4 linked regions of the Homo sapiens genome follow. The protein of the gene in region 1 purifies or fractionates together with the protein of each later gene. This does not show direct contact. Each region holds a gene or a part of one and is shown on either strand. Other genes may lie near its edges.

Region 1 (7,621 bases):
GAGAAGAGCACAGGTCTCCATCTCCCCCTCAGTTCACAGCACTTTTCTCCCAGGATGTCTTTTTGGCATCTCCTACGCTAGGTGTAAGGTCCTGCTGTGATCTCCATAGCACTCTGCTCTTCTCTGAGCAGAGCATATCTCACTCCATGTTGTAATTGCTTATTGGTTGTTCATTTCCCTTAACTCACCAGAAGCTTCTGCAGGACAAGGACAACTTTTCCTTTGTTCACCATTGATTTTCCAGTGTTTGGCATATAGTAGGTGTTTAACAAAGATTTGCTGTATTATTGATTGAAAGAAAGAATAGAAAGATGGATGGAGGGATGGATGGATGGATGATGATTTATCAGCTCTTCAGTTACTATGTCTCCACGTAATTGGGTAACTTATCCTTCCATTCCTGACAAGTTAACTTACCCAACTTCCCTAGTTTGTCAGCAGTACTATTCAAAAGACAGTGAGGTGTAAAAGCTTTGAATCTCCTGACTTTATATCCTGCTTCAATCATTTACTAACCATGGGATGATATGCAATTTATTTAATCTTGCTAAACCTTAACCTTAGTTTCTTCATTGTGGTATGATATTGTGATACCTGTTAATCATGCTTATAATCTCTGGAATATACCAGGAGGTAGATAAATGGTCGGTATCAATCTTGGCATATGTAACAATGTATTCAGTCATTTATACTCAGATTCGGTGCCTCTTTTCTCTTCCACTCTTTTCACCCACATTGATTGTTATGTACTTAACCCTGTCAAATCTTTCTTCCCAATGTCTTCTACACTGTTTCACTACCCTCATCTTATCTGCCTATTTAATACAATAGGTCCTAAACAGTCCCTGTCCTTCAGGTTTCTTCTCCAGTGCGTCATACACTCCCGTTGATAGCTCTAGAATTCCTGTAAAGGAGAGGTTTAGGGTGGTACTCTTTGGCTCCCCAGAAATTGGGAAGGACAAGGGAAGTGTCTTGAATCTGCATATGTATATCACTCTACAAAATATTGAGACAAAGGTAGCTTGACAGATATGAAAGGGTCGCAAAAGTTCTCCACCCTGGCCAACTGTTGTAGTCACCTCTGGGCAGAAGCTGCCAATTTCCACTTCCTAAAATAAGGCTCTCATCAAGGTGATTTTTCTTAAATTTGTTTCAAAGAGCCTGGAAGAACACTGCAGAACGAGTTCTAGAATCCTTTTCCTCACATTTGGAACTTGTCACAGTTTTGCCCCCCAGGGCATTTTGCTTCAACAACAATTTTTATTTCAAGCATTTCATTTCATTCAAGGCCCCTCAATATGCCAAAGCTATTCCTAACTCCATGTCTTTGTCCAGGAATGCCCCCACTCATGGCTCTCCCCAGCTCATCTCTTCTAATGACATTCTGTTCATCCCCCAAGGGCTGGTTCCATCATTGCTCTCCTCCGCAATTACCCCAGCCTAAGGTGCTCTTTCCTTTCTTGGAATTCCCACTGTTTTTTATTGTCAGGATAATTTACTGTGGCATTTAACTATCTAACTTTCTTGTATTGTTGTTGAAACATTTCCCATGTTGGTGTTTTTTCTCCCTCTGAACTGAGAGGTCCGTCCATTCAGGGTAAGGACTATCTCGTAATCTTGGGATCCTCCGAGGCACCCAGCCCAGAGTGGGGCCCAGCACTGGTAGGGATGGGATGTGAGTTACAAACCATCGCAGAAGCACTCTCTCTCTGCTCTTCCTGCCCAGAGACCCATGCCAATAGAAAAGAGGTTTCAGATTTAGAGACAGACACCTTCAGGGACCCAAAGATCCTCTTCCAAAAAATATGTGCCATATTGGCTACAAGACTTGGGGCTGGGAAAATTGAGTGCTTGTGACCCAATCTCAGTCTAATCATTTCCTGTGCTGGTGACTAATGACCTAGAGCCAAAGGCGCCTGTTACCTTCGGCTTGAGCAACTGGGTTTAAACACATATCTGCCTACACCCACACACATCTGTCTTCATGCGCACACCAGCCCTCAAGCAATAAACAGCACTGGCATTACTAAGTTCTTGAGAAAGGCCACCAGCAGCGGTGGGGTGGAGGTGAGGCTTTAAAACTTGTGCAAAAACCCCACCTCTAGAGAGAAATAAAAAGGGGGAATCTGGGTGAAGAATTTTTGTACTATTTTCAACTTTTTTGTAAGCCCAAAATGTCAATTTTTTTTTTAATTATAAAGCAGAAACAACAAAAGAGTTACCTTCTGTATGTAGTTTTTCTGCCACCTTCTCCAGCCTTTAAGAATTACTGTTTTTGGCTGGGGATGGTGGCTCATGCCCGTAATCCCAGCATTTTGGGAGTTCGAGTCAGGTGAACTGCTTGAGCCCAGGAGTTTGAGACCAGCCTGGGCAATACAGCGAAACCCAATCTCTACCAAAAATACAAATATTAGCCGGGCATGATGGTGTGAGCCTGTAGTCTCAGCTACTTGGAAGGATGAGGTGGGAGGATCACTTGCACCCAGGAGGCAGAGGTTGCAGTGAACCTGGGTGACAGAGTGAGGCTCTGTCTCAAAAAAAAAAAAAGAAAAGAAAAAAGACGGTTTTTTCAACATATTCATTTACAAATTATAGTTGTGAATGTATCTATTTCCCCTATTAGACAATTAGTATGAAATGGAAAATAAAGTTACTTCGGAGTCAAAGAGACCTTTTAAACACTTCTCAATATAAAAAATAATATTTTTAAATATTAGAATATTAATATTGGAATAGAAGCATTTTAATTCTATTGTGATCTGGGGCAAGATATTTAGGCCTCTCTAAGTTATAGTTTCCTTGTCTTCCTATTCATGCTAAGGGATGGTGATTTTTTTTTCAGTGACTATCCCTTAGCAGTATAATAAGAATGATATAAAAAGGTCAATAATATGACCCAATAAAAACCACGTAATAATATAATATGATTCTGGGTCCATACTTGGTGTTCATGACATACTCCTCCCAGGTTTTTTTAAATGTCAACTTCCAAGTTCTACTCACTTTGTGTCCTCACACCTAAAAAAGCACCTGGCATAGTGTGGATGCTAACACATCGGTATCGAAGGGGTGAGGGAGTGAGTGGAGAAATGCTGCAATTCTAAAGCAATGCTCCAGCTGATCCGCGAGCCCTAGGAACAGCCCCAGCTTTTGCAAGTCCTCTGAGTGACCTTGTGAAACTTCCATAACCTCTCCAGGCCTTTGCTTTCCTAGTCTGCGAAATGGGACGGGTTTTCATTACACATTTGCATTTCATTGCAAATGTGTGACTCGGCAGCCCACCGGCCCCGGCGGGGTTCATCTTTCTTCTCAAGAGCGCTGGCCCCGGCTTCCAACCTGGGCTCTGGCGAGGCCGAAGGTGAGCGATTGCGTCATCATGCCTCTGGGCAGCTGAGGGAGAAGCCCTCCAGGGACATTCAGAGACTGGGACCAGAGTTTCTGAGAGGCCCTGGGCACAAGGTCAGGGCAGGAGGTCCAGGCAGCTGAGGTCTGAGCGCCACCCTCACTGCCCTTTCTTAGTCTCGCTGCCTCCCGCTGCCGCTGAGCAGCAGGGTAGTGAAGGGCAGACTCCCAGGGGCCGACCCTGGGGCGGGGCTGCTCGGCTCCGCGGAACCCACCGTCCGCCCCCGTCCGGCCGCCAGCCTCCTGCCCTCCGCGAGCCTCCTGGGCCGGGTTCCCGGAGCCCGGGCGCGCAGGCCCTGGCACCAGGGGGATTCTGCTCCCTCTGCCTTATGTTCTTTCTGAAAGGGGGTGGTGCACATTTTGGCCAGGGCCACGTGCAGAGCACTTTGCTGCAAAGCATCTCGATAGACCTCTTTCCACGGGGCTGTGGGTCCCCTTCCCCTGGGTGCTGGCTGGCTTAGCTCTGCTCGGGACCTGAGGGAGCGCTGCTGCAAATACCGACAGTAGAAAGCGAGCGAACGCGAAAGGCCCCAGGAAAGCCAGGCCAAGGGGGGTAGCCGGGTGCCAAAGCAGGCAGTCGGTGGGGAGAGCCCTGGTCGGCCGGCCGCTGGCTGCCTTCGCACCCACTTCCGCGCCCCGCCGTCGGCCTGGTCAGTCTGGTGGCTTTACACTAACAGAACCAGACGGGGAGGGAGAGGAGAGGCGAGAAGAGCGCAGAGGACAGAGGGGAGAGGGCATGAGGAGACGAGGAGGGAGAGGCAAGAATGCGAACAAGGAGACCTAGAGAGGAAGAGATGGAAGAGAGAAACGCCAGATTTGTGAGAGACGTGGAAGCAGAGAGAAACGAGAGTAAAAAAGAAGCGAGAGAGAAGTGGAGAGAAGGACCAAGTGAGAGCAGAGCTCTAGGAACGGACAAGGCCTCGTCCATGGGCTCTCAGCCGAGGTGTCACCAATGCCTCCTGCAAAGAATCAATCCTACGCCCGGCGCCTCTCAACCCACCCGCCTCTGCACGGCCCCAGGTCTCCCCCGGCCCTCCCTGCCCGGCCAGCTCACGCTTCTCCCCGACCGGCCCCCACCGCAAACCCCAAACGCCGCGCGGGAGGGAGGGAGGGAAGGAGGGAACAGCGAGAGAGAGAGGGAGGGGCTGCGGTAGGAGGCAACCATGTGGTTCCAGCTGAATTTTTTTTTTCCCTCTCTCTTTCTTCACTCCTTTTTCTTTCCAAACAGGGAAAAGTGTTCCACGAAGCGGTAGCGCCTTTTCGCCTCGCGTTTTCCTCCCTGACCCTGGTCCCGGCTCCCGTCCGGGCGCCAGCTGGTGGGGCGAGCGCCGGGAGCCCATCTGCCCCCAGGGGCACGGGGCGCGGGGCCGGCTCCCGCCCGGCACATGGCTGCAGCCACCTCGCGCGCACCCCGAGGCGCCGCGCCCAGCTCGCCCGAGGTCCGTCGGAGGCGCCCGGCCGCCCCGGAGCCAAGCAGCAGCTGAGCGGGGAAGCGCCCGCGTCCGGGGATCGGGATGTCCCTCCTCCTTCTCCTCTTGCTAGGTGAGTGCCTCTGGGAGGGCGGGAGTTTGGATGGCCGTGGGCAAACGCAGCCCTGCGTCCGGGAAAGACGCCGGTTCTGACCGGGTGTCCCTGCAGCCCCTGGAGTCAGCCGGCTTTTCAGTCCCTGCCTCCTGGCCACGGAGGAGCACATCTGGCAACCGAGGGCCGCCCAGTCGGCCATCGAGATTGTCTCGCACATCTGGGCCCTTGAACAGGCTTGGGGAACCGTTTGATGTGCAGGGTCCTCTTTAGGGCGGTGTTTAGTTTCTGGTGTATCTGGGAAAAGTGGAGAATTGGTGGAGGGAAGGTTTATCCAGGAATTTTTGTGCCAGGTTCCTGAGGGTGGGGGTTTTTTGTTGTTGTTTCAAACAGGCGCCTCCGAGGCTCAGATTAGAAACAGATGTGTTAAAGGGTGAGCAGAGTGGGGGATAGGCAGGGTTGGAGAGGAAAGGGGAGAGGGAAAAAGGGCAGGGCCCAAGGAGCACCAGGAAGATGCAAATGCCCCAAGTCACACAGGGAAGGAAGGAAAAGGGGAAAGGGGAAGGGTTGGGAAGGAGAGAGAAAAAGAGGAGAACAGGAATGTAAAACAGAAGAGCAAGGCTGGGGGAGTCCGAGCACAGAGAGTGAAGAAGACTTGGAAAAAACGCAGCAGAGGAACCAGAACAGAGGGAAATAGAGCAAGCACCACTTTTTCCTGAAACAGGCTCCAGAGCAAAGGGAAGAGTCCTCCTGAGCGTCCCTTCCTGGGGTCCCCCAGGCAGGACTCTTGGGGCCTCAGAGGCCCTGAGGCAGAGGCAGGTTTGCAGGAGAGGACATCAGGGATGTGGGTGGTAGGAGCCCACCGGAGTGACTGGAAATGTCTGAGGAGCCAGGGCAGGAAAGGCAGTCAGGGAGAGCCAAGGGCACGTCACTATGCACCCTGAAGCATGGGATCCACTGCAGACAGGCCCCACAGTTAGCTGGAGATCAGAAAATCAAAGAGCCAGCCAGTGGTCAAGAGTGAGCACTACCCTGAACACCAGGCCACGGGAGAGCTGGTCCTGGTTTTGAACTGACTAGCTGGGTGGCCTCAGACAACTTACTCCTTATCCAGGGCTTCCACGTCTTTAGCTCTGGAAAGAGAATACTAGATGGTTCCTAAGTCCCTTCTAGCCTACAACACCAGAGGTTTGAAGGAGGCTGGTGTCTAGAAGAACCACCAAATCCTGAAATACGTGGTTAGAGTTCTCTGTCTTTTTTGAAACTTTACAAACCAATTATACTGTATGCATACCCATCTTGGCCAGCCTCAGGCTGATAATCACTTAAGTTAGAGAAATGAAAGAGGTGGGCTAAGCCAAACTATTGCTCAAGTAAGGCAGGTGGGGAGGGGTTATTTTCTAAACTCTTTTAGACTTAACCAAATACTGCAATACTGTTCCTGTGCACATCTGGCGCAGCTGGATGGCACCTTGATTCCCTTTACTGGACTCTACCACTAGGTTACCAATCACCAGATATTTAGTAGAATGAAACTTCAGGGCTCTCTTATTAAAAACAGCTAATAGTCCTTGTTATATGAACACTTTATATGTACTATCTTGGTAATTCGTTTGTTCTTCACAACAAGCCTATTGGCTGCCCAGCCATCCTTGTTGGCTACCCTCATTTTACAGATGAAGAAACCAAGCTGTAAAAAGGCCAGGTAACTTGCTCAAGGCCACACACTCATAATTAGGGGAGACGGAATTTGAGCGCAGGCTGCCTGCTTCCAGAGAAAGCTTGCTAAAGCGCATTGCTTTACAGCCTCCTGTGGCTGCAGAGATTCTCAAAGCGCTTACCCTCTGCCACACCTGGCTGGCTCTTCGATCTCACCATCCTCTTCATGGAATGTAAGATGTCAGCGTGACCTATAGGAGAGAGGTCTGGGAAAGGGAAAAAAAATTTGCACTTTTTGAGCACCTGTCCTTATTTAAGAAATGGTTTGGAGCCATGGAATGCTCGGACACTGTTCAGCAAAGGCAGAAAGAAAACACAGCAAGTTGTCTGAATCCTGAAATCATCATACTGGTCCTTTAAAGGGGCAGTTCCAGGGCTGCTTCTGATCCTGGCTGGCATGGTTTTTGGCTTCTCTTTTTCTAAAGATTGCACAGTATCAAACAGGGGCTGGGAGGGTGGAGAGTGTTCATCGTCTGAACTGTGGGACAGTTGACTCCATGTTTCCTGGACCTGCCAATGAGTGAGGTCAAATAACCCACCTCTCTGATGTGAATGAATAAGAAGTGCTCTGAGCCCCATGGAGAAGAGAGAAGGAGCTCCAGCTCAGCCCCTCTTCTGACCCACTATCCTGCCTCACTCCCGTAACGTTCCGGCCCTCATTGTGCCACCTTAACTTCTCTCCTGGATGACTATAGTAGCTGCCACGTTCCTGTCCTGCCTGTCCTCTCTCCTCCATCCTGCACACTGCTACCCGAGTAACCCTGTGAGGCCGCTGGTAGAATGCACGAAGCTGGAACTTAAGAGTCTGGCAACCTCTCTGGTTCTTATTCTGACTCCCTTGTCTGTACAATGGGCATAGGGGTAGGGGAATGTTCAATTCAAAATTTCTATAATTCTATGGTTTTTCTCCCTTCTTCCAAAAACCTTTAGTAGTCTCATTGCTTTTAGTGTTGAGTATAAACACTTCATTCTGACATCA
Region 2 (7,024 bases), on another chromosome or scaffold:
GTATTTTCAGTAGAGATGAGGTTTCACCATGTTGGCCAGGCTGATGTTGAACTCCTGGTCTCAAGTAATCTGCCGCCTCAGCCTCCCAAACTGTTAGGATTATAGGCGTGAGCCACCGCACCTGGCCAGAACACTCTATCTCTCTCTCTCTCTTTTTTTTTTTTTTTTTTTTTTTTTGAGACATAGTCTCGCTCTGTCACTCAGGCTGAAGTACAGTGGCATGATGATCTCGGCACACTGCAACATCCACCTCCTAGGTTCAAGCGATTCTCATGCCTCAGCCTCCTGAGTAGCTGGGATTACAGGCAGGTACCACCACGCCCAGAAAATTTTTTGTATTTTTAGTAGAGACAGGGTTTCACCATGTTGCCCAGGCTGGACTCAAACTCCTGAGCCCACACACCTGTGCTAGGATTACAGGCATAAGCCACCACGCCCAGCCAGAACATTCTTTCTTTAAGACATAAAAACTGACAATCATAAAGGAAAAGACTGATGCCAGGTACTACAATAAAATTAAGAACTTCAATCAATCAAAGGCACCAGAGAGAGTAAAAAGATGTTACACGTTAGAAAAAAAGATATTTATACCAAAAAGCTCACGAAAGATTGGCAACTCCTACAAATTATTAAGAAATAAGCAAATCAGTTGAAAAATCAACAAAAGATATGAAGAGGCAAGTTACAATAGTAAACAAAAATGGCCAATCAACACATGAAAAGATGTTCAACCTTATTATTAATCAAAGAAATGTAAAATGAATCCATAATGATATACTATTTAGTGTTCATCAGATTGGCATAAAGTCTGACAGTACTAAGTATTGGCAACGATGTGGAGTAACAGGTATTCTCAAGGCCAATGGGAGTAAAAATTCATTTTGGAAAATAATTTGAAATTAGCTACTAAAGTTGAATATGCACATATTCTACAACCTAGTATCTCTACTCTCAGACATACAATTTAAAAGCACTTCCTAAACTTTATAAGAGATAAACTCATACAATGGAATACTTCATAGCAGTGAAAATAAAACAGGAACCAATGTACACAAATCTTGGAAACACAATGCAGAGTCAAAAAAGTTTACATACGCTATCATTCCAACAATATATACAAGTATTCCATTCATATGAACAAAATTCACATAAAGTAACATTTTTAAATTGGTCAATCCAACCAAAAATTCTGTTATGTAAGATAGATAGTTTACTTGCATGTGCATCATTATAATTGCAAGAAAATAAATTATTCTTCAATCAACAGATCAAGTATGCCAAAACAAAAACAGAGAGAGCATTACACTGTACTTTATATTGAGAGTAACTGACCTATCATCCTTATAACACACTCAGAATGTATGTTTTTCCTGACTAAACAATGGGTTTGAAGAATTCTACCAAACGATCAGTATCAACGAATATGCCATATGAAGGAAACCACATGTTATCAAGATATAGAACAGGTGCCTTTTCTTTTTTTTTAGAGGATTAACATACCAATGATCATCAGCAATCAGCACCCCAGATAACTGAATATCATGGCTTGAGTTTGGTTTATACTTTCCAACTGTAGTTGTTCCTTCTTTTATCATATATAGCAGCATCTCAGATAGTTGTGGATCTTCATTCAGATTAACAAGGTTTGGTAAATGATTGTCCATTTGAAACATAATTCCTGCTTTCTGGTAGAAGTCAGAAAAAGAAATTAATCTTAATCACAGTATGAAATTGTTAAATTCACCTAAAACAAATGGTCTATATTAAACATTAAAACAATTCTATATGAAGTCTCACTAAATTAAAGGTTATTTATTTATTTTTTTATTTTTATTTTTTTGAGACAGAGTCTCGCTGTGTCACCCAGGCTGGAGTGCAGTGGCACGATCTCGGCTCACTGCAACCTCTGCCTCCTGGGTTCAAACGATTCTCCTGCTTCAGCCTCCCAAGTAGCTGAGACTACAGGCGCATGCCACCACGCCCGGCTAATTTTTGTATTTTTAGTAGAGATAGGGTTTCGTCATGTTGATCAGGCTGGTCTCGAACTCCTGACCTCAGGTGATCCACCCGCCTCAGCCTCCCAAAGTGCTGGAATTACAGGCGTGAGCCACCGTGCCCGGCCATAAAGGTTTTTTAGACTCTCTCCTCCTTCCTTAGAATCTCTCCTTTGTGACCTCCCTACCTTCTTTGTCCTTCACCATCCTCAGTCTACTCATACATCAATCTATCATCACCAAATTGTGTCTTCTTATTGACTGACCGTCTTTAGAATAGATCAGTTTGTTTTGTTGCATCTTCATTGCCTTCACCACAGGCCCCTGTCAACTCACACCAAAACTACTGAAGCAGCCTCTTGATCACCGTCAACAGCTTCTGTTTTCAATCCATCTTATATCCTATGCCAGGTTAATTCTCTCGAAAGGGTGCTCTCAAAATGTAAATTCCCTGGTCACTTTTTAACAGCTTCTCACTTCCTACAGGATAAAACTTAATTTCCTTGGCCTGGAAATCAAGTCCTTCATAAACTAATCATAACATATCTTTCCAATTGTATCTCCTTATGATCTCATATAAACTGCTTCCAGTAAAACTGATCTACGTACCCTTTCTAAAGACAACTCAAACTTTTCTACCTTTACTTTCAGAGAATTTTCTCTTCCAAGAATGTGCTCTTCCTTTTCTCTTCCTATTAAAATCTTACCCAAACTTCAAAGCCCATCTCAAATGCCACCTCTTTTATGAGATTGGATTGGCCATGCGCAAGGAATTTTCCCTTCTTCTCCTGAATTCTTATAGTACTCCCCCACTACCAATCACTTGAAATACTTTTCATTACATTAGGTTCAACCATATGAAACTGCCAGTGTTCAACCATGCTTTACCTACAAAAATGGCAATTGCTTATGGCTCAATCTACTGAAATCACATTGCATTTCAGTCTTCTATTTACGTTTTGTAAATCTCTCTCTGGATCACAAGCTCTCTGAGGGATGAAACTGTGTTTAATCACCTTGGCTTCCCCTGTTCCTGAAAAGCATAGACATTTAATATATATTTGTAGAACCAAAGTAAATATAACAAGATGGTTTATTCATACTTTAACTTTCCAACTAGTTTATGGGCTGGCTCTAAGCAACCAGTCTTGATCTTAACATTTCTTTATATTAATTTTCCTTACGGTATTGCTTTGTACAGAGTCAGTATATAGTAAGTATTTGAAACATTAAATTTACATGCATTGGCATATTGGCAATATTTATTTCTTGGCATATTTCTTTTATTTTCTAATCAGTTTAGAAAGTTGAAATAATACCTGTAACTCTTTTGTTTCTTGAAGTTTTCTTTTTTCAGCTTGTTCAAACTTTTCTTTCCACACTCTTTCCAAAGACAAAGAAAATAACAGAGTTAAAAACATCCAGATGTATAAGATTGAGAGTCAAGAGACAATCAATGAAAATTAGGCAACTACCTAGTAATATTTAAAATATGATAATCTGGGAGTGGGCTGCTCTATTCATAAGGAAGGTCGGAAAAATACTCAGTATCCTCTTGAGGTCCCTGCCATTCCTATGATTCCAGAGCAACACACTTAACATTTAGAGTACTGACTGTACTCTACCTTTGCATTTCTGCCATGTCTCTCTCCTGTTGATGCAGTTTCATTCTTAAGGATGTTATTTCTTGCCGACAGAGCCTGTATCGTTCAGGGTCAATATTCCGACTGTTTCTCTGAGCAGCTTTTAGCTTTGCAATTTCTGCCTTCAATTCTGAAGATTTATACAAAGATGCATTAATAATAACATTTAATATATAACAATTTCCACAGTAAGCATAATCCTCCAATCTTCTATTTCATTTGAAGTTTTAAATACAGTATTACTAAATAAAATAGAATATTGGAGAAATCAGCTCTACTTTATATAACCTATAAATCTTTACTTAGTCTTAACCTGAAATATGCTCCCATATTAATGAACTTTCCCTGTTCATAAGTAGGAAAGCTGTATAATGTACTGACCAAAGTGGAACACTTTTGAGAGGCAAAAGGGTAATTGTTAAAGTGAAAGTTTATTTAAAAAGTAAAGAAATAAAAGAATGGCTATTCACTAGGCAGAACAGCCAAGATCAAAGATTTTTCAAGCTGGAATTCAGAATATTTATTTATTTATTTATTTAGACAGAGTCTCACTGTCTAGAGTGCAGTGGTACGATCTCGGCTCATTGCAACCTCCGCCTCCTGGGCTCAAGCAATTCTCCTGCCTCAGCTTCCCGAGTAGCCAGGATTACAGGTGCCCACCACTGTGTCTGGCTAATTTTTGTATTTTTAGTAGAGACAGGGTTTCCCCATGTTGGCCAGGCTGGTCTCGAACTCCTGACCTTAAGTAGTCCGCCTGCGTTAGCCTCTCAAAGTGCTGGGATTATAGGCATGAGCCACCATGCCCGGCCCAGAATACTTATTTTTAATGAAAACAGTCCCACTTGTGAAACAGAAGGGATCCAAAAGGGAAAGGATGGACCAGGATAGACAAATCAGATTCTTCTCTGGCTCATACATCTGAAGTGTCTATCACCTTCTGCTGCTAAAAAGGGCCAGAGGACAAAGGGGCATGAAAAGATGATAGTTCTACATCAGCAAAGATAAAACTGTACAAATCAAGATTTCTTGCAGGCATTAAAGTCTATCCTAAATTGATGATTACCTAGAGATAAATAGAAAGCAGTATTTAGCATAAATGAAGTTCAGCCTATACTAGAAACTCGAGCTCCAATTGCCTTTGGATCAATGAACTAAGCATGAGCAGAGCTAGTACATAAAACGTCAATGGAAGAGAGGTCATAAGAGAAAAATAGTAAATAGTTTTATTGGCATTTTGCTGCACACGTCTATGACTGTGTAAATTTATTGTTTAATGCTTACTGTTTCCCCCTTACTCACACTCTGTTTTCTATGTTCTTTTCCTAATTGTTTTTCTCCTTATTACTTATTATCTGTCCTTCTACCTATCATCCTCCATCACTATAGGCTGATGACTAGAATCTATTAAAATAGGTATAGAAAAACACCTTTGATGTTCATAAATTACATATTTTAAGACTGCAACTAATATCTGGGACTAAACTGTGGCAAAACAATTTTTAAATTCTGAGAAAATATTCACCTCTAATTAACTTAGCGTTCATATCTTCATTTACTTTAGCAATGTTGACTATTAAACGGGCTTGGTTAGCATATCTAAGTGTGCTTAATGTTTCTTCTATGTTGCTGGCAGCGGGACTAATCGTAGCAATCATTGCAGTTTTTGAATTTCCACCCAGACTTTCTTTTAACAGCCTACAAGAAAAAAAGTCATAAGACTTTGCTTCTACAACAACTTAATAACAGTAATTATCTAGAAAGCACAAAACAAACTAATAGGGTATATAATACAGTATTATTATACTCTACTCAAATACCATTTAAAACTTTTCTGGTATTTGTAACTATTTCTAGATCTCATAAACACTTTTTCTCTCTTACACTTTTTATATTGTTTCAAGAGGCAATAATCTGTGCAGAGATTCTAAAATGTGGTGGATCATCAAGTATTTCATGACTGTGAGCTACCATAGGGAAGGGACTATGTGTCTTGGTCATCTTTGTATTTCCAGTGCTACCACAACCTTTTGAAGCAGGTGCTCAATAAATGTTGAAAATGATGAACATTGAAACAAAAATTCTATATTGTACTAAAAGCAAAATCTTTATTTTAGAGAAAAAGAGTATGAGACTTAAAACATATATTAGTGCAGAATGAATGTCACTATTTTTAACTTTCATAAGACATGAAAAAAATCAGATTTTCCCTTATAGGTTTCAAGGTGGCAATCACATTGTAATAAACCAATTATAAAGACACATTACCCTCAAGTAAAGATGCAGTCCTTATTGTAACTGTATATTAATGCCTATCACAACTGAATATTAAATCCATACAGATGTAATCTGAATGTAACATATTGAAAATTAAATATACATTCACTAATGAAAACATTTATTGAGCACCCATGTATTAGTCACTGTGTAGTAAGCAAACAAAATTATTCAACTTCTCTTTATACAACTAGCAATATGTTTGGTAGTACCATATATGTTCAAACATCAGCCACAAATAATAGTTAAGTACAAGAACAGTTATTTACACTCATATAGTACATATTATGTATTAAGAATTGTACACTAATAATCTAATTCTCACTTACCCCTAAAAGGTATTGATTTTATTCCTATTTTACAGATGAGGAAACGGGCTAGAATATTAAGTAATTTGCCCAAAGTCACAGAGCTTATAAGATGCTGAGCTGAGATTCAAATCCAGGTAGTTTGGCTCTAGAATTCATAATGCTTACCACCTTTCTCCATCCCAAAGTTAATGAAGTCAGTCTATCATTCTTTTCCCCATAGTATTCACTATATTTTATACAATTCTTTATACTTCAAAAGATACTTGCCATGTAAGAACAGATTCACGATAAGGAATAAAAACACTCCTTTGGTTTGCTTGTTCCGAAAGTGCAGATATAACTTTTCCCAAAGTTAGCAAGGACTTATTAATACTCACACCTTCCTGCATGCAAGAAAAAAAAAATTTTTAACTTAAAATACTTCTCAGCAAGAAATTTATTTCACAAAATATATTTCTCCCCTCATATAATTACTGAGTAAATACTTTTTTACTTTCTTTTTTTTTGAGACAGAGTCTCACTCTGTTGCCCAGGCTGGAGTGCAGTGGCATAAACATGGCTCACTGTAGCCTCGACCATCCAGGCTCAAGCAATCCTCCCACCTGAACCAAGTAGCTGGGACTACAGACACATGCCACAATGCCTGTCTATAAATACTTTTTTCTATAAACTACCAACTTTCTTATGACTCAAACGTATTTTCTTTAAAAATTAATCATAACCAAAAAGTACGTATCTCTTTTTCAACCACAGCAATGCAGTCTATAAACTGCAGATAAAGATATATTTGGGGAGGTTAAGT
Region 3 (7,024 bases), on another chromosome or scaffold:
TAGTCTTTATTCTCATTGAGCTACATTTGTTTGGCTAGGGGAAGCAGACCAAAAACAAAGTATGTGGTATGTGGAGTGATGCTAGGTGTTATAAAGAAGACCTTTAAAGTAGGGCTGTGGAAGGGGGATATAGTAGAGGGGGAGAGGGCTGTTTTATACACGTATAAATGGTATACACCATTTATACACGGTGGTCAGAGAAGCTCTGATCAGGTGACGTATGTACAGAAAGTCACTGTGGCCTGAGTAGAGTCAAGGAGAAGGAGCAGCAAGAGTTGAGCTTAGGGAGGTGGAGAAGGGGTGGAATAGATCAAGCAAGGCCTTGGCCCTGGTAGGGATCTGGGATTTTGAGTGAGAGGACAACCGTTGGGATGTTTTGAGCACAGAATGGTTGTAAGAAGACACGATTCAGGAGGACCACTTAGGCCTCTGTGTGGAGGGGGCAAGCGCTGCCACCCAGGCCCAGGAATGTCAGCACCAGGGTAGGCTCTGGGGACTGCACAGGGGTGATTGTTGCTGGAGACTTAAGTGGGAGGAGGAGAAGAGGGGCTGGAGATAGAGAACCATGGGAGGGGCCACATTCAGGAACTTACTGTGTCGTATCTGGAGGATAAGAAATAAGTAAGCCTTGGGCAGCATGGCACTATTGTTGCTTTCATGCACTGTGTCTGTAACCGGAGAAAAGTTATAGGGTGCGTCTATTAACCGATTGGCCTTTTGGTGAAAGCATTTTGAATACATTTAGAGATTTTGCCTATTAAATTGGCAAGTTCTAAAAATGGACTTACTACAACATAAATTTTTTGTTCTGACATTGCTGTTGGCTACATCTGCCATTTTCAAAACGGGTGGCAAGACATTAATTTTTTTGCTAATTGTGCAAAAGAATGTATAGCCTTATATTCCCATTAGAGAGAAAGTGCTGTGGACATTAGATTCAACTGATGTCCATTTATTCAAGAAATATAGTGTCTTGTATGGGCCAGCTATTAAGCTAAGTGTTGGGTATTTGGTATAGAACGAAAGAAAATAATTCATTCCTTTTAAAAGCTTATATCCTAGTGGGAGAGACAGCTATTAATCAGGTAAATATGTCCCATTCCAGCAGGTGTAGCTAAAAAAAAAAAAAAAAAAGACAAATTTAAAAAACATAAATATGTAAATTACAAGTTTAGTAAAGTGTTATGAAGGAATAAAAAAGATTCCATAATAGAGAACAATCCAGGTTATGAGAATCAACCAAGAAAGGGTGGTTAAGAAATGATCATATTCTGTTATTATGTAAAACAGCTAATATTTATTGGCTTCATATGGGTTAGGTATTATTTTAATCCCATTGCATGTAATTGTGCAGTTATTTGAAGATGGGGAAACTCAGACACTGAGGTGAAGAAACTACCCCAGGGGACAGGGAGTGATAAAGAGAGGCTGGTTAATAAGTACAGACATACAGTTAGGTAGAAGGAGTAAGCTGTAGTGTTCAGCAGCATGGTACTATGCTTAACAGTTTATTGTGTATTTTATTTTTTATGGTATATTTTAAAGTAGCTAGAAGATAAGATTTGAGATGTTCCCAGCACCAAGAAATGAGAAAAGTTTGAGGTGATGGATATCCTAAATACTCTGATTTGATCATCACACATCCTATGCATGTAATCCAAATATTACACATACCCCATAAACATGTACAATTATTATGTATTAGTTAAAAAAATTAAGGAAAAAAAAAAGAAACTAGCCTGGGATGATATAATGGTCAGTAGTAAAGTCAGGAGTCAAACCAAGGTAGTCTGGCTCTAGGGTCCATACTTTTGACCACTAGACAGCTTCGTTTTAAGCCGAAAGGGCTTTTGGAAGTGAACGTTGAACTGAAATGTGAAAGATGAGAAGCTGTAGTTTTCCTCCTGTGATGAAACATTTTTTTTTCTATTGAAAATGAACGTAGACTTAATACATCAAGTAAAACAATATAGCACAAAGACGCGTGAAGGCAAAGCTAATCATCTCCTCCTTTTAGTCCTACATGGTAAGATAACGAATTTTACAGCCAGGTGTGTGTCCTTCCACACTTTTCTTTTTGTTCATGTGTACACACTGGATAGATACATATATGGGGGTCTTATTTATTTTATCAAGTAGAATTATACTACACACGTGCTCTTAAACATGACAGCGTGTCATTGGTTTTACTATTGTGTGTATCAACAGATGTGGATTTAATGTTCTAATTTTATTTTGTAATTTCTAGGCACTTATATATGTGCTTACAAACATCTTATGACATTTAATAATCAATTATTCAGTGAAATTTATTAAACACTGTCAGTGCCCTCTAGTCAAAGACTGCCAGGAACATACCTCTAGTTGAACAAAGTTGGTCTTATTAACTCCCTGCAATGAAGGAGAATGCCTGTCCTAGGGAACGTTGGGGGTCTCTGTAACAGGTTGTTAGAAAGGACTTAGAAGATTCGAGATGATGTTAGGTGATTCGGGGAAGAGTTCAAGGAAGCAAAGCTTTGCTCAGTCTCGGGTGCTTCAGGAATAAGGAGGAGTGGGAATTCTGCAATTGGATATTTAAAATCTTAACGAAAAGGCAAGAGGTATGGAGTAAGGCTAAAGCTGTAATTGATAAAGAAGCAGCAATGCTTCATATTAGCCACGATAGGAAGATGTTTGGGCATTTTGTGGTTTGGGTGATGTTCATGTTTTTGTCTATGTTCAGATATGATTCCAGAGTAGTCTTATTTTTGTCTTCATATCCTGGTGACAGAGTGACCTTGTTTGATGTTGGCATTCTTTGAAATTGTTGCATTTATGTTAGAACACCAAGTCTGGCTGTGTGTGCCGGGTCAGTTCCCGACAGTCAGGGGCTGCTTTTCTCTCTCACCTCCTGTTGTGTAGGCATTGTGCTAGATATAAAGCAGATCCTGCTGCAAGAACTTCTAGTCTAAGGGAGATGTGGAGAGAGTGAGTAAAATGGAGAGGAGAGTTGAGTGTGATGTGAGCAGTCTACAACTAGATGTATACACAGGTGTGGAGGAGCCCAGGGCCTGGCCCAGCTTGGGGTAAGCAGCCAGTCAATGAAGGCTTCCAGAAGATCTGTTAGAGCCATGTTCTTAAGGATGGGTAGGAGCTGTTCAGGCATATATACGTGGAGAATGGACTTTCTAAGCAGAGGGGGCATTAAGTGCAAAGGTCTGGAAAGAACAAAGTGTGGGGCAGTGAAGGAGCTGCAAGTAGATCAGTCTGGCTGGAGCTGGAGGTGTAGATGTGACTATGTAGAGGGTGGGAGGGATGGGGCTGAGGAGGGGAGAAAGATAAGGCTGGAATGGTAAGATGGGGCCAGATTGTGAAGAATCTGCATGCCCTCATCATAATCAAGAATTGAACTTACTGAGTTTTCACTCTGCTCAGTGGAGAGCAAAGCTTTCCGTAGGAATTGTGTATTTGCATCTTTACAATGGCTTTAAAAGCCTTAGAAGGCGTAAGTTCCTTGAATAACTTGTAAGTAGTAAAGCTGTCATCTGTCCTCCCAACCTTGGTTTTAGGAGAGATGTATTGTAGGTCACTCTTGCTTCAGTGTGGCAAATGGATTGCAGGTGGCAGGCCTGGAGAGAGGAGGCAAAAGTTGCTAGCCTGTCACATTGATCTGGGTGAGAGATGGTGTAGTAGAAGTTTTTAGGATTGATGCCTAGATCACAACTGTTTACTCTTTTCTGGAAACAGTGCCAATATGGTGTGACCTTGTAACCCCCTCCCAACTTTGTGTCTCTAGTTGCTTGGTTCTGGGTGTGCAACAGATCCAGCCTGGGCAGTCAGAGCCCTTTTCTGGGACTGTTGGATCTGGGAACAAAGAATAGCCTGCTTTCTCTGGTGTTAGAGACTATCTGATTTAGGCCAGGTGCGGTGGCTCACACCTGTAATCCCAACACTTTGGGAGGCAGAGGCAGGCGCATCACTTGAGCCCAGGAGTTTGAGACCAGCCTGGGCAACATGGTGAAACTTCATTTCTACAAAAAATAGAAAAATTAGCTGGGCATGGTGGTGTGCACCTGTAGTCCCAACTACTCAGGAGGCTGAGGTGGGAGGATCGCTTGAGCCCTAGAGGTCAAGGCTGCAGTGAGCCATGATCGTGCTACTGCACTCCAGTCTGAGTGACAGAGTGAGACCCTGTCTCAAAAAATAAATAAACGATCTGATTTGAGGCTGGATGGCTGTGGGAAGCCATATTTCCCTTTGTGTAGAAGTAGTTGGTCTAGAAGGAAAGTAGATTAAGCCAGTAGAGAAAGAGAATCCTCCTGGCATTTGAGGTCCAGTGGCACCCACTCTTCCTGTAGTGTGGTTATGGGAAATAAACCATTATCCTTCAAATACATTTTTCTGTTTTGCTTAAGCTAGTTTAAATTAGTCTCTTGCAACCTTAGGGGTCTTGATTAGTATAGATGGTGAAGGTCTAAACTAAGGCACTGAGTGTGGGGTTGGGTGATCTCACACTTTAGGGGGTAAACTGGATGAAAAATGGTAGCTGTGTGACTCAGAGGGAGATGGGTGCCTTGGTAGAGTAGAGATGAGGATGGTGTTCTACATGGAAGGAGCACATTGAGCATAGGCGGGAGTGTGGAGCAGCACTGGGGGAGTGTGGTGAATTTGAGTTCTTCTGCTTGGCTGGGCTGTGGGGTGAGCTGGGGCTGGTATAGAGGGAGAGCCAGATCCTGCAAACCTCACTGAGGCCTTAGGCTTGATCCTAGAAGGAGTGGGAATAAATGAAGGTAGGTGTTGGTGATGACTGCTAATACAAACCCTCACTGCTTTCTAATGATAGAAGCATCACATTCCAGAACATGTAGGAGATAAAGGTTTTAAAGAAAATAAAAATTACACTAATGCCCATCACCATTTGTTCTTTTTTTATTTCCAGTATTTAAAAATGTATACATTTAAAATAGCTGAGATGCTGTATATATAGCTCTTAATCTTTTACCTCACTTCTTCTATCATGAGCATTTTTCTGTAACACATTTTTTGAGACATTTTGATGACTGTATATTATCCTACTTTGTGAATTTTTATAATTTATATAATATCCATTTCTAAGATTTTTGTTCTTATGGATAAAATTGTTTTACTTAAAATCTTAAAATTTTGTTCATGTTTCTCATGTTTTTAGAATAATTCCTAGAAGTGCAACTATGGGATCAAATAACATCATTTTTTAAAATAATAGTTTTTCACCCCAAGAGTATAAATTCAAGTTGTTCTGAATATATACTCCCTAAAAGTAAGGTATACTGATTTATACTTTACATGTAATAACATTCACCCTTTTTAATGGACAGTTCTGAATTTTGACAAACGAATGATTGTGTAACTGCCACAACAGTCAAGATATAGAACAGCCATTAACTCGCCAAATTCTCTTGTACTCTTTTGTAGCCATCTCATTCCCCTGCCTTAGACCCTGGCAGCCCCGATCTGTTTTCTGCCCCTGCAGTTTTCCTTTTCCAGAATGCTATATAAGTAGAATCATATAGTGCTATAGTTTCTGCCCTCTGGCCCCCAGAGATAGATTTCCTTCCTGTGTCAAAACATATTCACTCCATCGCAAGGCCTCCCCAAAAGTCTCAGTTCATTTCAGCATCAACCCAAAGTCCACAGTCTCATTTAAATCTCATCATCTAAATCAGGTATGAGAGGGTCTGGGTGTAGTCCATCCAGAGGCATGATTCCTTTCCACCTGGGAAACGCAAGAATCAAGTTATCTGCTCCAACTTAGAGTTAGGGAATGGGCATGGGATATCAGTTATAGACAGTCCTGTTCAAGGGTGGAGGAAAAGGAAGGCAAAGAGGATTCACCAGTCCCAAATAATTTCATTTTCATAACAGCCAAAGTTTTCAATTTTGACGAACTCTGGTTTATCAGTTTTCTTTTTTTATGCACCATGCTTTTAGTGTTATATCAAATCTTTCTTAATCTAAGGTCACTGAAGTCATCTATATTTTCTTCTAGAAGTTTTGTACTTTCAGACATTATATTTAGGTCAATTTTGAGTTAGCACCTGTATGTGGTACAAAGTATGGATTGAGGTTTATTTATTTGCATTTGGATGTCCAGTTGAATATAATAAAATTTCTACTCTTTTAGAACTTATAGTTATGGTAGACAGACAATAAGTGAACAATATGTCATTTTTTGGATGGTGGCAAGTGGTGTGGAGAGCAGTGAAAGCAGGACAAAGGGTTGAGAGTGCAGGGTGACAGTGAAGCCTGTGTGGGGTCGGTACCCTGACATCCCACATCCGGTGAGACTTTGTAACCAGGTGACCTGACGGGGTCAGGGGGTAAGCCGTGTGCATGTCCTGTGGAAGAGAATTTTAGGCAGACAGAAAAGTAGCACAGAGGCCTGGCGAGGTGGGACGGTGCTCAGTGTGGCCATGCAGCCAGGAGGGTGAGAGGGGGTGGTAGGAGCTACAGTCACAGGTGTCACACAGGTGAGAGGCTTGCCACTGAAGAGTTATCTTGGCCAAGGTAAAAACATTTGATTTTACTTTGAGCACCCCGAGAAGCCCTTAGAGGGCTTTGAATAAAAGAGGCCATGCTCTGACTTAGTACTGCTCACATTGTGGTTCTTCCTCAGTGTTGTCAGTGTCACAGGGAGCTGGATAAAGATGCAGAGTCAGGGGCCCCACTCAGACCTGCTGAGTCAGAATCTCTGACGGTGGGGCCCAGGAATCTGCTTTAAAAGCTCTTCAGGTGATTCTGATATATGTTAAAGTTTTAAAAAAAGTAATGTAATTTTAATTGACAAATTATATATATTTAGGGGTACAATGTGATGTTTTGATACATGTATCCATTGTGGAATGATCAAATCAGGCTAATTAACATATTCATCACCTCCCATACTTAATTATTTATTTGCAGTGAGACCATTTAAAATCCACTCTTCCAGGTAAAGTGGAGGCAGGGAGGCCAGTTAGGAAGCGATGATAGTGACGCAGGTGAGTCACGGTGGCTCGTCCAGGGT
Region 4 (7,469 bases), on another chromosome or scaffold:
GCTGAAAGGTTAAGTCAGTTGCCCAGTTACTGGCTAATACATGAAAAATGCTAGAACTGGGACCCAGTTGTCCCAAATCCAAACTCCATGCTCTCACTGCTTCCTGATTTACACACACTGTCAACAATACACAGTTTTCTCAAGAAGAGATACGTGGATCAGCTTTCCTTACTACCACAGTCAAGAACTACTCGGCTGGGCAGGAGGATCGCTTGAGCCCAGGAGTTCAAGACCAGCCTGGGCAATGTAGTGAGACCCCTGTCTCTATTTAAGAAAAAACCAACAAAGAATTACTAAAACTTTCTCTTCTCTTTCTTTTTTTTACATTCACTTCCTTGGTCCCTTGTTCTGAGTCAAATCCTCTCTGCCCTGATACACAGCACTCCTTGAACTGCTTTCTAAACAAGACCATGCCACTAGGTCGACTTGCCCCCTTCCAGATCACCACATACAATGTGTTAATTACTAGACTTGATCTTAGCCAAAAGGCTGAGAAGCGATACAATGTATTAATTAATCTTTCAACGGTCTCATATGACTGTGAGAAGTGATACAATGTGTTAATCTTTCAACTGTCTCATATGACTGTTGACTTTCTCATATGTCTATCTCACTTTACAGATGAGAAAACCAAGGCTCTTCTTACCTCTGAGCTTCATCTTGTCCCTATTCTTTCCTATTATTAGTCCAAGGATGCTAAAGATGATACCCATGGCCAATGCTAATTTGACAGGGTGTGGCTTTGCCTTGGAAACTAAAAGTAACCAAATTTGTCTCAACCATTTTGAGACAAATGCCTATACTCCTCCCTCTACCTAGATAACACCATTCATGTCCATTCCTTGCCTGGCTAATTCCTATTCATTTTCCAGGTCTCAGCTTAGATGTCACTTCCCCCAAGAAGCCTTCTCTGGATTCCACTTTCTTGTCTAGGCTGGGTAAACTCCTCATGTGCTTTCTTCCCTTCCTTTCCCTCCTCTCCCCTCCCTTCCTTTCCTTTACTTTCCCTTCTTTCTCCCTCTCCTTCCTTCCTTTTTTTTCTTTCAAGACAGGGTCTCACTCTGTTACCCAAGCTGGAGTGCAGTCGCAGGATCACAGCACTGGAGCCTTGACCTCCTGGATCAAGTGTTCCTCCCACCTCAGCCTCCTGAGTAGCTGGGACTACAGGTGCACATCCCCATGTCTGGCTAATTTTTGTATTTTTTGTAGAGATGGGATTTCGCCTTGTTGCCCAAGACTGGTCTCAAATTTCTGGGTTCAAGCAATCCTCTCACCTTGACCTCCCAAAGCTCTGGGATTACAGGCATGAGCCACTGGGCCTAGCTCTTACATGCTCTTAAAGTTTCTTGGCTTGAAATTGCAGCACGCTAAGCAATAAGGAAACAAAAATTAAAAAGCAAAACTTCCAGGAGCGCCCTATAAAGCTTAAGAATAAAAGAATGAAAAAATAATGTATGTTATTTACTGGCTGGAGTAGTTAGGACAGGCAGAGCCCTAATGGAAAAAGGATATAAAGGATGGTATAGGATATTCATCCTATACCTTGACAGAGGACAAACGCTGGAAGCAAGGAAATGTTTATAAGAAACACTCGTGCTCTTCACGGATGCTTTCGGTATTCCATTAAAGCTTAGAAACTTAGTTTTGAGAGATACCAAAAATCATGTGGTGCAATTCACATCCAATGCTGGAACTATATTACTCTTAAATTTGTCCGGGTCAATGTAAGTATTATAAGCTTTGTTAATTCAACAGACATTCATTAAACAACTCTTATGTTCAAGGGAACTGATGACACAAAGTTGAAAAAGTATAAGGTGTCAGCCCTTAAGGAACTTGTCAGGTAGCCAGGTAGTAGAGAATAAATGGTCATTTATTTATCCACTTAGCAAACATTTATTTCATGCTCTATGCACCAACACAGTATCTTGAAAGACTGGTATTATTGTCATCTCTATTTTATAGATGAGGAAATTGGGTCTCAGAAAGGTTAAGTAATTTCTGAGCTTGCGCAATTATGGTGTCTGGCACATTCTAAGCATCTTTTATCCATTAGCTTATTTACTCTGCATAATCACCACCCGTGAGGTAGCTACTTTTGTTAGCTTCATTTACATATACGGAAATGTCATTCTGAAAGGGTAACTGACCCTACTAATAAATGGCAGAACCAGGATTACCTCCAGACAACCTGGTTCCAGCATCTATGCTCTCAACCACCATGTTCTATTGACATATTGTTAAGCCAGTCAGAGTCAAGTCAGTGTGTGAGGGTCATGTAATGAAGAACAATGCAAACAATAAATGGTCAATATAACTTGTGTCAGTTCTTTCAGTTTCTTTGATTTTTCTCTTCACTCCTTATTGTCCAGTTAACTCCATTACCAAAAATAAATTGCAGAGAAGGAAAATGGCACAATGATGTGGGGGTGATTTTGGCAACAGGTTGGGAAAATATTGCTTTGAGTGGGGGCTTCTACCCTCAGTTAACTGCAGGCTTCTAACTCTCTGAAACGTGCACATTTTAGTGTGGATGAGCTTCTTTGCATCTTTCTGGGAGAAGTTCTACAGCTTTCTTAGATTTCCCTGTGACCCATAAAAGGCTTTTAAAAAAAAAAGACCAATTATTAGCCTACTGAAAGCCAATGGAACATTAGGCACGTCAATATTTTATTATAAAAAAATCTATAAATGCTATGGAGGCATTAAAATATTTAGAACAACCCTGTGGTGACACAGAAAATGTTGATGTGATAATGCCAATAACAATTTGAAAGTGTTATGTTCACTTTCTCAACTCTGATTACCTCCTCAATCCATGCATATTTCACTTCCTTTCTTCCAACTAGACTGTACTTAGCAAGGTCACCAGTGACCTTCACCTTGTCAGATCCAGCAACCACTTCTCTATCCTCGAATTTGCAGTATAGTTGGCCACCAGCTCTGCTTCCATGCCATAACTAGTCTGTTTCTACCTTACTGGCTCTCTTTCCCAGTCGCAAATGCCTCACACTTGAGGTATTTAGGTGTATTTAAGTCACGTCTGCAGCCCAGACTGCTACAGTGAGCTCTGTACAACAATATATCCAATTGTCTACTTAACATCACTCCTTGACTAAAATGTAAGCATCTCAGACCAAGTATTTCCAGTCTGGGCATGGTGGCTCACCCCTGTAATCCCAGCACTTTGGGAGGCCAAGCCAAGAGGACTGCTTGAGTCCAGAAGTTTGATACCAGCCTGGGCAATATAGCAAGATCCCATCTCTACAAATAATAATAATAATAATAATAATAATAATAATAATAATAAAAGAGCTGGGTGTGGTGGTGCATGCCTGTAGCCCTAGCTACTTGGGAGGCTGAGGTGGGAGGCTCACTTTAGCCCAGGAATTGAAGGCTGTGAATATTTTCAAATAATTAATTAATACTATTATTGCCTTTCTCGTTTGGCTCCCAGAACAGTACCTGGTCCACAGAGGACTCTCAAGAAATAGTTGCTGAATGAATGAATGAATGTAAAATGGGGTAAATAATTATATTTTTAAATTATTTTTTAAAATTGTACATATATGTATATATAACTGTACAATTTAACAACATGCTATGTGTAGACATTAAAGTGATGGGAAAAACACCAAACATTAACAGCGGTTGTGCATGAAATTAAAAGATTTTTCTTAAAACTCCTTCTCTATTTTTCAATTTTATTTACAGCGTAGTGGTTAAGAATACCAAAATTTAGAGTCTGAGTGAAGACTGCCAGTTACCAGCTGCACAACCTTGGTTTCCTCTTGTGTCAAATTGGCTTAAAAATATACACAGTACCGGCCAGGCGCGGTGGCTCACACCTGTAATCCCAGCACTTTGGAAAACCGAGGCGGGCGGATTGCCTGAGCTCAGGAGTTCGCGACCAGCCTGGGCAACAAGGTGAAACCCCGTCTCTACTAAAATACAAAAGAATTAGCCGGGCGTGGCGGCGGGTGCCTGTAGTCCCAGCTACTTTGGACGCTGAGGCAGGAGAACTGCTTGAACCCGGGAGGCGGAGATTGTAGTGAGCCGAGATCGCGCCACTGCCCTCCAGCCTGGGAGACAGAGTGAGACTCCGTCTCAAAAAAAAAAAAAAAAAAGTATATATCTATATATAGATATATAGATAGACGCAGTACCTCCTTTGTATTAACATCCCTAATAAGCTTTACTGTGAAATTATGGATGAAAGGATCTTTGCACGATGCAGGTACGTAGTGAGGGACAGTAATGTTAGTTGATAACGATTACAGGTATGTTTTATTTTATAATGAAAATACATTTGTCTTCTAAACCTTTACCGAAGGGAGTGAAAAGAACACCTCACCCAAACGCCCGCCCTTATGTGCGCAGCCCCGCCTCCTGTAGGCCCCACCCCACCAAAGGGTGCGCCTGCGCCGTTCTTTTTTCCGTCCACGTGACCCACTCAGGCTCCTCCTTGTCTCCAACATGGCGGCGCCCAGGGGCTCAAGCCGCACGTGAGAAAGTCTGGGCATCTGGGAATCGGAGAGTATAGCCTGTGAGCCGCTTTCCCCTCCTTACTGTCGGTTGCATCCCTTCGACACTCCCGAGGCCGTCGCGGGCCACTGGCCCTCTGCAGCCATGAAGACAAAGCCCGTTTCCCACAAGACCGAGAACACCTACCGGGTGAGCGCGGGAGCTTAGGCAGGGAGCCGCGGGTCTCCGCTGCCTCAGTCGTGAGACAGGCTCTGAGCGAGACTCCAGGGGCCTCAGACTTCTGGGCCGAGTGTGTCACTTTCCTGGAGGCTCCGGCGAAAGAGGGAGACACTGGATGTAGTAAACATGGGTTGGAGGAGGAAAGAAGTGTGGACAGCAAGTTTCACCCATGTTTTATGGGGTCTGGCCAGTCCTGGGAATTTCCTGTAGTCCAGAATTAAATTCACTATTCCAGGAGATTGCTTAGGACCAATTCTCCCCTGCTCTTTTATCTTTAAAGACCGAATTGGGCGAGTCGGCTGGCGGTGAGTGATTCCCAGCTAAGGGCAAATATACAGCGCTTTCTCTGTTTGCCCCTTGATAGATTGTTTCCAGGTCTTCCTTAGGATACAATCATAGGTCTGTATATGTTTAAAAACACTTTTATTGCAGCGACTTTGCTAGGTCCCCATGCTTATGGGAGGGTATGAAACCTAATAGATCTAGCGAGACTAATTGCCAGCATCCACCTAGGCTCACCAGTCTGGCAATGGAAATTTTATTTGAAATGACATAGCTGAGAGAAATTATGCAAACATAGAAGTATTCATTATCTTTGAACAGTGATGCAGTAAATTTGTTTACGGCCGTATGTTTTTCAGTTTATTTTTCCACTTATCCTTTGTGATTAGAGATGCCTACATGCAGCATTCAAATAGATATTAAAGATCTGATAAATTTTAATTAATTATGTATCTTAAATATACTTTCCCTTCCAGTTTCTTACATTTGCTGAACGACTGGGGAATGTTAATATTGATATTATTCACCGGATTGATAGAACTGCAAGCTATGAGGAGGTAAGAGAATGTGATACTAGTCAATCTTCAAGTGTTCATGGTGTTTTAGTTTCTTCTGTTAGTAGAAGTGAATTGTTTTTCAAGGTATTCCTTTTTGGACATGAAATGCTTTAGACCTGTGCTGTTTCATACAGTAGCCACATATGACAAATTGGATTTAAAGTAAATTAAAAATTTGGGTGCCCAAATGTGGCTAGTTGCTAACATATTGAATAAATATAGAATTGGAACATTTTCATCTTTGCAGAAAGTTCTGTTGGGTGAAGCTCTATTAGACAATTGACTTGACTTTCAGCTGTCTTTGTGATTCTAGCCTCTCCCTTTCCCTTATGCATTCCAAGCACTGCTGCAGATCCATATTCCTGAAGCTATAACTTTAAAGTGATTTTGAGGAAGCCCTTTTCCCGGGGCTTAATTTTCTCCTTTATAAAAATAAAGGGGCTAGACTACATAATATTTTCCAGTTTTAACCATACTCTGACTCTGTCATCCCTTTATTTTACTTTTATTTATTTATTCATTTTTTTGAGATGGAGTCTCGCTCCGTCTCCAGGTTGGAGTGCAGTGGCGTGATCTTGGCTCACTGCAATCTCCACCTCCCAGGTTTAAGCGATTCTCCTGCCTCAGCCTCCCGAGTAGCTGGGATTACAGGTACGTGCCACCACACCCAGCTAATTTTTGCATTTTTAGTAGAGACGGGGTTTTGACATGTTGGCCAGGATGGTCTCAATCTCCTGACCTCGTGATCTGCTCGCCTTGGCCTCCGAAAGTGCTGGGATTACAGGTGTGAGCCACCACGCCCGGCCTTGTCATCCTTTTATGCAGAAGTCTTTTTCTGCATCATGTCGTTATTCCTCCTAGCATTTTAAGGTCGTACGTAACATGCCTATACCTTGGCGATCCAATCTCAGTTCGTAATATTCTTCTTTACTATAATCAGACTCCACTCGCTGGGTCTTTGAATGCATTATCTCCACTGTGTAAATTCAATGTGTTAAATGATGTCGTCTAGGTGAGCACATTGTGCTTTGAGAACTCATAGTAAAGGGAACCTAACCTACATTCTTTAGGGGTGTCAAAAAAACGGTGATCTAGACGAGGTGACACCTGAATTTTGTTTATATAGGTTTTAGCATGGTAAAGAGGACAGGAAAGCCTGTTCCAGGCTGAGGGAGAAGCCTATATAAAGGAACAGAAGCTAGAGAATGCATGTCACATTCAAGAAACTGCAAAGCAGTCCAGTGTGGTTATAGGTGTGTATAGGGTGTTTTTTTTTTGTATTCATGGTGACTGGGATGGGGCAAGGGGGCAACTGGTGAGATAAAGCTGGAGAAATAGGCAAGGATCATAAAGGACTTCATATGTGAAGCTAAGTTGGGGTTTTATCCTGAAGCTGTAGGGACTTAGAGTTCTAGGACTGTAAGCAGGGGAATGAATGACATGATCAGGTTTAAATTTTCAATCTCTCTGGCTTTAGTGTGGAGAAAAGAGCAGGACTGCAGTTCTTCATCATGTCATGATTCCTCTGCTAGCCTTTTAAGGTCCTGTGTAACATGCCTTTAACTTGGAGATCCAATCTCAGTTGTCCAGTTGTGAGGATTTGACTGTTATCTAAGTAAGAAATGATTATGGTAGCAGCAATCAAGATAGAGAGAAGAGAAAGATTCCAGAGATGTTGAGGAAGTAGAATGAATGGATAGGACTTGTGACCTACTGGGTTTGCAGCAAGGAAGATAATGAGGTTAAGGCTGAATGGTTGAGGATGTTACTCATCAAGATATATTTATAGGTAAAGGAGCACAAGGTTGTAAAGATAAGATAATTAGTTCCATTTGGGGCTTGAATTTGAAATACCTTTGGCCATCCAAATGATAGTGTCCAAAAGATGTTTGTATATATGGATCTGGAGTATAGGTGACTTCAGAG

What was found.
Region 2: the proteins of CLMP (region 1) and KIF14 purify together in Homo sapiens (affinity purification with mass spectrometry; 2 studies listed by BioGRID and IntAct, with this or other methods). This does not show direct contact.
Region 3: the proteins of CLMP (region 1) and KIDINS220 purify together in Homo sapiens (affinity purification with mass spectrometry; 2 studies listed by BioGRID and IntAct, with this or other methods). This does not show direct contact.
Region 4: the proteins of CLMP (region 1) and UTP20 purify together in Homo sapiens (affinity purification with mass spectrometry; 2 studies listed by BioGRID and IntAct, with this or other methods). This does not show direct contact.

Annotation. Positions count from the first base shown.
Region 1 is NC_000011.10:123,192,236-123,199,856, reverse strand, and holds the start of CLMP (CXADR-like membrane protein precursor), read left to right. Parts: upstream 1-4,608; 5' UTR 4,609-4,916; coding exon 4,917-4,944; intron 4,945-7,621. UniProt on the Homo sapiens protein: May be involved in the cell-cell adhesion. May play a role in adipocyte differentiation and development of obesity. Is required for normal small intestine development.
Region 2 is NC_000001.11:200,596,737-200,603,760, forward strand, and holds part of KIF14 (kinesin-like protein KIF14), read right to left. Parts: intron 6,606-7,024; coding exon 6,490-6,605; intron 5,333-6,489; coding exon 5,160-5,332; intron 3,768-5,159; coding exon 3,620-3,767; intron 3,378-3,619; coding exon 3,314-3,377; intron 1,686-3,313; coding exon 1,501-1,685; intron 1-1,500. UniProt on the Homo sapiens protein: Microtubule motor protein that binds to microtubules with high affinity through each tubulin heterodimer and has an ATPase activity. Plays a role in many processes like cell division, cytokinesis and also in cell proliferation and apoptosis.
Region 3 is NC_000002.12:8,827,590-8,834,613, reverse strand, and holds part of KIDINS220 (kinase D-interacting substrate of 220 kDa), read left to right. Parts: intron 1-7,024. UniProt on the Homo sapiens protein: Promotes a prolonged MAP-kinase signaling by neurotrophins through activation of a Rap1-dependent mechanism. Provides a docking site for the CRKL-C3G complex, resulting in Rap1-dependent sustained ERK activation.
Region 4 is NC_000012.12:101,275,654-101,283,122, forward strand, and holds the start of UTP20 (small subunit processome component 20 homolog), read left to right. Parts: upstream 1-4,451; 5' UTR 4,452-4,629; coding exon 4,630-4,674; intron 4,675-5,462; coding exon 5,463-5,543; intron 5,544-7,469. UniProt on the Homo sapiens protein: Part of the small subunit (SSU) processome, first precursor of the small eukaryotic ribosomal subunit.